2 separate regions of the Homo sapiens genome follow, and region 1 is linked to region 2. Evidence: fine-mapped expression QTL. A gene starts in region 2. The other region holds a variant in brackets. All regions are shown on one strand. Distances are from middle to middle.

The links. PIP is the estimated chance that this variant, and not a neighbour inherited with it, causes the effect. A credible set is the group of variants that fine-mapping cannot tell apart.
Region 1: its variant is the best candidate, but not a certain one, in a credible set for the expression of KLK10 in lung (TOPMed, PIP 0.89).

The regions. Positions count from the first base shown.
Region 1 is chr19:51,126,826-51,131,205 of GRCh38, forward strand. It overlaps SIGLEC9 (sialic acid binding Ig like lectin 9), which reads left to right. Exons shown (of 7, transcript NM_014441.3): 4 at 205-471; 5 at 1,124-1,214; 6 at 1,589-1,685; 7 at 3,066-3,485. The coding sequence ends at 3,254. Among named protein-coding and RNA genes, the nearest start is that of SIGLEC9, 4.1 kb to the left of the region's middle. RefSeq lists an enhancer at 2,102-2,151. The variant G/A (reference allele first, on the strand shown) is at 2,557.
Region 2 is chr19:51,017,471-51,021,850 of GRCh38, forward strand. KLK10 (kallikrein related peptidase 10) reads right to left here and starts at 2,239. Exons shown (of 6, transcript NM_145888.3): 1 at 2,157-2,239; 2 at 1,573-1,669. The coding sequence starts at 1,660.

The DNA.
Region 1 (4,380 bases), 110 kb after region 2:
CTTTCTTATTTTGAAAGATAAGCCCAAACTGTTCTCGATGAAGCGGGGAGAAGTTTACATTCCCAGCAGTGAGTGGTGAAAGTGTGTGTTTCCAGAACTTCAGTCTATGTCTGTGTGTCAGTTGCTGTCATCAGTCTCTTTCTGTATCCTTCCTTTTTCTCCAGATCTATGTATCTCTCTGACCCTCTGTCTCTTTTTCTACAGTATCCACAGTCTTGGGAAATGGCTCATCTCTGTCACTCCCAGAGGGCCAGTCTCTGCGCCTGGTCTGTGCAGTTGATGCAGTTGACAGCAATCCCCCTGCCAGGCTGAGCCTGAGCTGGAGAGGCCTGACCCTGTGCCCCTCACAGCCCTCAAACCCGGGGGTGCTGGAGCTGCCTTGGGTGCACCTGAGGGATGCAGCTGAATTCACCTGCAGAGCTCAGAACCCTCTCGGCTCTCAGCAGGTCTACCTGAACGTCTCCCTGCAGAGTGAGTGCACCAGTATGCTGGGGAGGGGCTGGAGAGGAGAACACACCTCCTCCACCCTTAGTAACTGCTGAGCGTGGACCTTCAGAGAGGAGCTCCGCTCTGGTCTGTGCTCAGCTGTGAGGTCTGGAACTTCCCTGGGACCCACAGCACCACTGTCCTCTTCCTGCCAGGGAAGGGTTGTGGGGTGGGGAGAGGGCAGGAGTGGATCTCAGAGGGGACAGGATGGGGCCGGACAGGTGTGTTTAGGGAGACAAGCGCCTTTCTTTGCAGGGCTGAACTGGAGTCACACAACTGAGATACTTGCTTTGAGCATCAAATTAAAAAAAAGAAAAAGCCCAGCAAGTCAGCAATCAAATGAAATCATATTGCAATGCAATAATCTTTTAAAAAAAGTAAAAATTGAATGCAAAACAAATTCATTAATGGATAAAATATTAAAATTGTGAAAAAAAACCCCAAAAGGAATGGCTGGCACTTGCACGCCTCACTGGCCTCAGGAAGAGTCTCTCCATGTCCTGCTCTCTCTCATTCCTGTTCTTTGTGTCTGGAAAGGGGAAGTGGAAATAGAAGTCTAGGACCCTACAGGAAGTGGGAGGAGAAGAGACCCAATTCTCTATGATATATCACAAAAATAACTCCCATCTGTCAACAGGCAAAGCCACATCAGGAGTGACTCAGGGGGTGGTCGGGGGAGCTGGAGCCACAGCCCTGGTCTTCCTGTCCTTCTGCGTCATCTTCGTTGTGTAAGCATGGACCCTAGAGAGGGAGGGAGGGAGAGCCCTGGGGGAGGACAGGCTGGAAGCTGGATCCCTGAAGCCAGAGCTGGAGGGACCTGGATGGGTCAAGAGCTTGGGGCAAGAAGGAGGTCACAGGTGCATGGTGAGAATTCCATGTGGGCCTGTGTTTGAGGAGCTTTGAGTCTGTGGCAAACCTTGGTACCCACTGTCCAGGAGAAGAGAGCCTCTGTTCTCAACCTTGGGGTCTCTAAGACTGGACCACTGCTTTCCCACCTCAGTCACCCCTGCAGTCCCTTAATAGGAAACACATGGGGGTACCTGGTCTGCCCACCGCACCCCAATCTGACCACACTGAAAGGCTCTCTGGTCTCTTCACTCAGAGTGAGGTCCTGCAGGAAGAAATCGGCAAGGCCAGCAGCGGGCGTGGGAGATACGGGCATAGAGGATGCAAACGCTGTCAGGGGTTCAGCCTCTCAGGTGAGTGATGTGGACTCTCCACAGCCAGCATGTAGCCTGGACACCTCCCACAGGATGACCCCCAGGACTAATCAGCTGGGCGTAGCCAAAGTTACCTCCTCTCTGTTCTTCCTTTCTTCTCTGTAGCCCCAAATCACAATGTTTGGTTGGTTTCCTCCCCTAAGAACAGCTTTTATTGTCTCTGCTCCCTATCCTGACCCTTCATTGCTGAGGCCTGAGGATCTCTGTCTTTTGTTCCCTCACCTGTCTGCCTGTCTCCTCTCCTTTCCTGCCTGGGGGGACTGTCCAGAAGACATCATCGTCCAGTTCCTCTGCATTTGAACAGCTGTTCCCCCACCCCTCAATACCGTTTAGAGCAGAAGCCAGCAAATACTATCTGTCAGGGACAGATAGAAACTATTTTCGGCTTCATGGGCCACACAGTCTCATTGCAGCTCCTCAAATCTGCTGTTGTAGCAAGAAAGAAGCCATATACCCTGTGTAAACAAATGAATATGGCTGTGTGCCAATAAAACTATTCACAAACATAAAGAGTGGGCTGGATATGACTCAGATACTGTAGTTTGACAACCCCTGATCTAGAGTAAAAATCCCAAACTCTATAGCCTGCAGCAGTGCACATTCTGACTTTTTTTGTTTTTTTTTTTTTTTGTTGTTGTTGTTTTTGAGACAGAGTCTTGCTCTGTCGCCCAGGCTGGAGTGCAGTGGTGCGATCTCTGCTCACTGCAACTTCCACCTTCCGGGTTCAAGCCATTCTCCTGCCTCAGCCTCCGGAGTAGCTGGGACTACAGGCGCCTGCCACCACGCCCAGCTAATTTTTTTGTATTTTTAGTAGAGACGGGGTTTCACTGTGTTAGCCAGGATGGTCTCA[G/A]TCTCCTGACCTTGTGATCTGCCCACCTTGGCTTCCCGAAGTGCTGGGATTACAGGCGTGAGCCACTGTGACCGGCCACATTCTGACCTTTTAAGCACCTACCTCTCCACTAGGGCAAGAACAAGGGTGAAGTGAGTGAGGCTGTTGCCTCAAGTGCATTTTTTCGTTTGTTTGTTTTTGTTTTTTGAGATGGAGTCTCGCTCTGTCACCCAGGATGTAGTGCAGTGGCACAATCTTGGCTTACTGCAACCTCTGCCTCCTAGGTTCAAGCGATTCTCCTGCCTCAGCCTCCTGAGTAGCTGGGATTAAAGGTGCACACCACCACACCTGGCTAATTTTGTATTTTTAGTAGAGACAGGGTTTCACCATGTTGGCCAGGCTGGTCTCAAACTCCTGACCTCAGGTGATCCGCCTACCTCAGCCTCCTGAAGAGCTGGGATTACAGATGTGAGCCACCGCGCCCCATCCTCACTGTCTGCTCTGACTCACTTCTCTCTCCCATGTCTCAGGGGCCCCTGACTGAACCTTGGGCAGAAGACAGTCCCCCAGACCAGCCTCCCCCAGCTTCTGCCCGCTCCTCAGTGGGGGAAGGAGAGCTCCAGTATGCATCCCTCAGCTTCCAGATGGTGAAGCCTTGGGACTCGCGGGGACAGGAGGCCACTGACACCGAGTACTCGGAGATCAAGATCCACAGATGAGAAACTGCAGAGACTCACCCTGATTGAGGGATCACAGCCCCTCCAGGCAAGGGAGAAGTCAGAGGCTGATTCTTGTAGAATTAACAGCCCTCAACGTGATGAGCTATGATAACACTATGAATTATGTGCAGAGTGAAAAGCACACAGGCTTTAGAGTCAAAGTATCTCAAACCTGAATCCACACTGTGCCCTCCCTTTTATTTTTTTAACTAAAAGACAGACAAATTCCTACCTCTCTGTACCTTGGTTTCCTGCTCTGTAAAACAGGAATGAGAAGCCCTACTTGCAAGGTTGTGGTCACCATTCCAGGAGTCACATCCCGTTAGAGCTCCTGGCACAGGTGTATGCCGAGCACTGATGGATCGCTGTGCTTTGAACACAAAGGTCCTGCTGGGAACCTCTCCTGATTCTGGTGGCAACTAGTACTTATATGTCTGTGTCACTTGCCTGCAAAATAGCGATTCTGCAACTTTCCAGGAAATAACCTCAGCCTGCAAATCAGGTCTAGGTAGCATCTGGATCCTGCCCACCTCTTCAGCCTCATCTGCCCACCCTGTGACTGCTAGGCCGCCTTACTCTCTGCAGTCTACGTATTGTGCACAGTCCAGTGGGAATCTTTAGGACACACTGAGCTCTCTCCGCACTGCTCACAGCCCATCCATGGCTCCTGGATCCTGAACCTCCCATCACATCCTCTTCGTGACATCACTCTCCCACTTCAGTCCACTCCTCCATCTTCACCACTTAACCCACTGGTCCCTCTGGTCTTTTCCAAATCATTTGCAACATGCCCTGTTGGTTCATACCTCAGTCCTTGCACACTGGGGACCCTCCTCCTAGAACGCCCTCCTCCTGGGCCTTCTTCTGTCTCTGTCTTTGAAAATGGAGTTCAAGGATTGGACTTCTGGGTTGAGCTGAGGGAGAGAGTGAAGCAGCAGCTCATGATCTCCCTCCTCTAAAGCCAAACCCAGGGAATGAGAAACGTTTCCAAAGGGGCACAGGATCATCTGGCAAATTAAACAACATGATCCAAAAAAATTTACCTACATGCAGCACCCGAACGAGGAAAGGGACATCTCACAACAATCACTTTATGCAGTAGCCCTGATAGGAAGAAATCAAAGGA
Region 2 (4,380 bases):
GAAAGTGGAAGGAAGCTGGGATAGGGTAGCGTGGAGTAATGAGACAGAATAGGGTGGGTCTGGAGGGCAGGGACTGAACGCAGCGCGCCTGGAGAGCTGGCTAGAACGTCGCTGGTCGATAGAGGGGCGGGGATTGAACGCGGCGGGGAGGTAAGGGTGCGGGGATAGAACTCGGGGATCGGGGAGAGGAAGGGGTGTGAATAACAAAACGGGATTGAAAACCAGGAGAGGGGTGGGGCGCAGTGGTTTACGCCTGTAATCCCAGCACTTTGGGAAGCCGAGGCGGTTGGACCGCTTGAGCTCGGGAATTCAAGACCAGCCCGGGCAACACAGCAAGACCCAGTCTCTACAAAAACAAACAAACAACAACAACAACAACAAAAAAGTAGTCGCGGAGGCATGCGCCTGTAGTCACAGCTACCTGGGAGGCTGAGGTGGGAGGATCGCTTGAGCCCAGGAGGTGGAGGTTGCAATGAGCCGAGATTGGGCCACTGCACTCCAGTCTGGGCGACAGAGTGAGACCCTGTCTCAAAAAAAAAAAAAAAAAAAAAAAAAGCCGGATGTGGTGGTGCATGCCTGTGGTACCAGCTACTCTGGAGGCTGAGTATCGCTTGAGCCCAGGAGGTCGAGGCTGCAGTGAGCTCTGATTGGGCCACTGTACTCCAGCCACGGAGACAGAGCACTGCCCTGTCTCAAAAAAAAAAAAAAAAAAAAAAGAAGGAAAGAAAAAGAGAGAGAAAGAAAAAAACAAGAAAGAAAGAAGAAAAAATAAGAGAGAAAGTAAAACAAGAAAGAAGAAACAAACGAAAGGAAGGAAGGAAAGGAAGGAAGGAAAAGAAGAACGAAAGAAAGAAAAGAAAGAAAGAAAAAGAAAAAAGAGAGAGAAAGGGAAAGAGGAAGAAAAAAAGTGAGGGGAGAGGGCAAAAAGCGGTAAGGCAAGACTCAGGATAAAACACGGTGGTGTGGCCGGGAGCGGTGGCTCACGCTTGTAATCCCAGCACTTTGGGAGGCCGAGGCAGGCGGATCACGAGGCCAGGAGATCGAGACCACGGTGAAATCCCATCTCTACTAAAAATACAAAAAACTAGCCGGGCTTGGTGGCGGGCGCCTGTAGTCCCAGCTACTCGGGAGGCTGAGGCAGGAGAATGGTGTGAACCCGGGAGGCGGAGCTTGCAGTGAGCCGAGATCGCGTCACTGCACTCCAGCCTGGGCGACAGAGCGAGACTCCGTCTCAAACAAACAAACAAACAAAACAAAACACGGTAGTGTAAAATGGAGCGGGGCCGGGATGGGGCGGCGTAAGAGGAGGAGAAAGAACGCGGCGAAGAGTCCACGGAAGAGCGAGGATCCGGGTGGCAGAAATCGGACAGGGCCTGAGTGGGGCGGGTCACCCAGGGGCCGAGCCAGAAGAAGGGCCCAGCTGACTTGGGGGCGGGCCGTGCTCCGGAGCGCTGGGTGGGTGCTGGGGTCTCGGGGGAGGAGAGGTGCGCGGGGCTTGGTGACGGGAACACATTCTCCTCCCGCCCGTGCCTCCCACCGGCGCCTCTCCCCGCCCCCTGCCCCCGACCTTACCCCAGAGTTGCGCCATCAGCAGCGGCAGCAGCTTCGCCAGAGCCCGGGCGCCAGAGGCGGCGGAGAGGTGGAGGTGCGGAGCTCTCATGGCCAGGATCTGCTGGGGTGTGTGCAGGGGCGGGTTAAAACAGATGCTCCGTTAGAGACCCCCACCTCGCCGCGCTCATCCGCCCAGCCTGGGCCACCCCAGCCCGCAAGCACCCTTTTGACCTGCAGCCGATAACCCCAGGGGCTGGCAGACGGGAGATTCGGGCTGGAACAGCGGTAATGGGCACAATTACCCTAATGACGCCCCTCGCGGCATCTTCCCGTCCTCCCTGTGCCCGAGTGGAGCGCTCTCCGCGCCCCAGCTACCCTGGCTGCAGCCACGCCGCGCCCGAGGTTTCCCCCTCCTTCACGCGCGGGGTGGGGATCCGAGGCTCGGAGCCAGTGGGAGCCTCTTTCTCAACCTCACAGCGGGGGGACTTCCGCGTCCCGCAGGTGGAGAAACCGAGGCTCTAAGCCGGCTCCTGCCTGTGGCCCGGGGGTCCCCACCCATCCTCTCGCAATCCACCCCAACCCGGGTGGGGTGCAGGTAGCTTCACCTGGGAGTCGCCGATAGGAAGGAGGGAGGGGACCCAGACGTGCCTCTGCCCTGCCTGTGGTCTGCCGCTGGTATCCTCTGCCCAGGGACCCCTGGCGGGACCTTCCCTTTTAACCCCAAGGAGTCCGGAAGCTTCTCCACCCTCCCCTACCCCCACCCCCGGGCTCCCTCCCTTTCCCTCTGTCTAATTGTACCGTGGGTGAGGCTGGCACTCCTGGGTCCCAGATTCCTGCTCTGGGAGGGGCCCTGGAATACAGGCTTCTCCCAGTGCCCGAAACGCCCCCTTTTCATCCCTTTTGGAACTGGCTTCCGTGGGGATTCTCCGGGTCCCGGTGCCAAGAAGGCTTCCCAGGCGCGGGGAGAGGGTTCACGTCCCCAGCAAGGCTAGGGGTGGCAGGATGAGAGGCCACTGAGCAAGAGGAAATCAATGGGAAGTGCATACCTAGAGTGACAATGTGAGAAGCCAGACTGTGGAAGAGGAAGGAGGAAGGCCTAGAGATAAAGCAGGTTGAGTAGGAGGGACAGAGGCTGGCTTGAAAAGGGAGATTGTAACAAACCAAGGCTAAAAGAGCCAGAGAGAGAGAGAGAGAGAGAGAGAGAGAGAGAGAGAGGGAGGGAGGGAGGCGCCGAGGCTAAGAGAAACAGAAACAAGGAAAAAGGGAAACCCACGCCCACTCTGTGGCCGTGAGTGAGCTCTGTGTGTGTCCCAGTGACTAGCCCATGTGCGTGTTGGGGGGGGCTGTGGCTCTGCCTCATACCCATGTGTGGCCATCTCACACCCTCCCTGCCATCTGTGTGCCACCAGGTGACACACAGGCCCCTGAATCATAGGAGGTCAAAGCTGTGAGGGGCATCGGCATCACCTCAGCCAACTCCCTCATCTCAGGTGAGGAGTGAGAGGCTCAGAGAGGGCAGAGACTCACAGGAGGTCACACAGCAAGTCCACTTGACAACCAGAAGGCCCTGGTTCCACTCTGGGCTCCTATTGCTCATGCCAGCCACTTCTGCGAGGTGAACAGACCATCCCAAAAGATCCTGAGCTGGCCGGGCGCGGTGGCTCACGCCTGTAATCCCAGCACTTTGGGAGGCCAAGGGGGGGCGGATCACGAGGTCAGGAGTTCGAGACCAGCCTGGCCAACATAGTGAAACCCCATCTCTACTAAAAAGACACAAAAATTAGCTGGGGATGTTGGCACAGGCCTGTAGTCCCAGCTACTAGGGAGGCTGAGGCAGGAGAATTGCTTGAACCTGGGAGGCAGAAGTTGCAGTGAGCCGAGATCACGCCACTGCACTCCAGCCTGGGTGACAGAGCAAGACTCTGTCGCAAAGAAAAAAAAAAAAAAAGATCCTGAGTTCTGGATTCTCTCCGTGGGACATCCTCTTCAGAGGCCATCTAACTCAGTGCTGCTCAGCTGAACTTTCTGCAGTGATGTTTTATATGCACTAGCTAATCCAGCCACCACCAGTCACATGTGGCTATCCAGCCTTGGAGATATAACAAGTGAGACAGAGGAGTTACATTTCTGGCTTTATGTAATTTTAATTGGAAGAGCCAGCTGCGGTTAGTGGCTACCATATTGGCCAGCAGAGGTCTCCACTATCTAATTACCTATCATGGAAGTTGGAGAAAAACAATAAGCTCCTTTGGTTAGGTCTTAGTATGTGCAGGCTAACTGACTTCTTTACTTACTGTGTTATACTTTTGCATGCAGCATTTTACAGGAAAGGAAACAAACAGAGCCTTACTCCAGGAACATCACTTGGTAATTAAGAGATCGCCTTGCTTCAGATCCTTGCTCTCCTAGCCACGTGACTGTGAGCAAGTGACTTTGCTTCTCTGTGTCTGTTTCTTCAACTATAAAATAGGTATGAAAACAGTACCGACCTCACAGGGTTTTGTGAGGATTAAGTTGATACATTTGAAAGTGCTTGGAGGCCAGGCACAGCGACTCATGCCTGTAATCTCACCACTTTTGGAGGCTGAGGAGGACAGACTGCTTGAGCCCAGGAGTTTGAGACTAGCCGGGGCAACATACTGAGACCTCTGTCTCTACGAAAAATACAAAAATTAGCTGGGCTTCGTGGCATGTGCCTGTAGTCCCAGCTACTCTGGAGGCTGAGGGAGGACAATCACTTGACCCCAGGAAATTGAGATTGCCGTGAGCTGTGATTGTTACTGCACTCCAGCCTGGGCAACAGAGCAAGACTGTCTCCTAAATAGATTA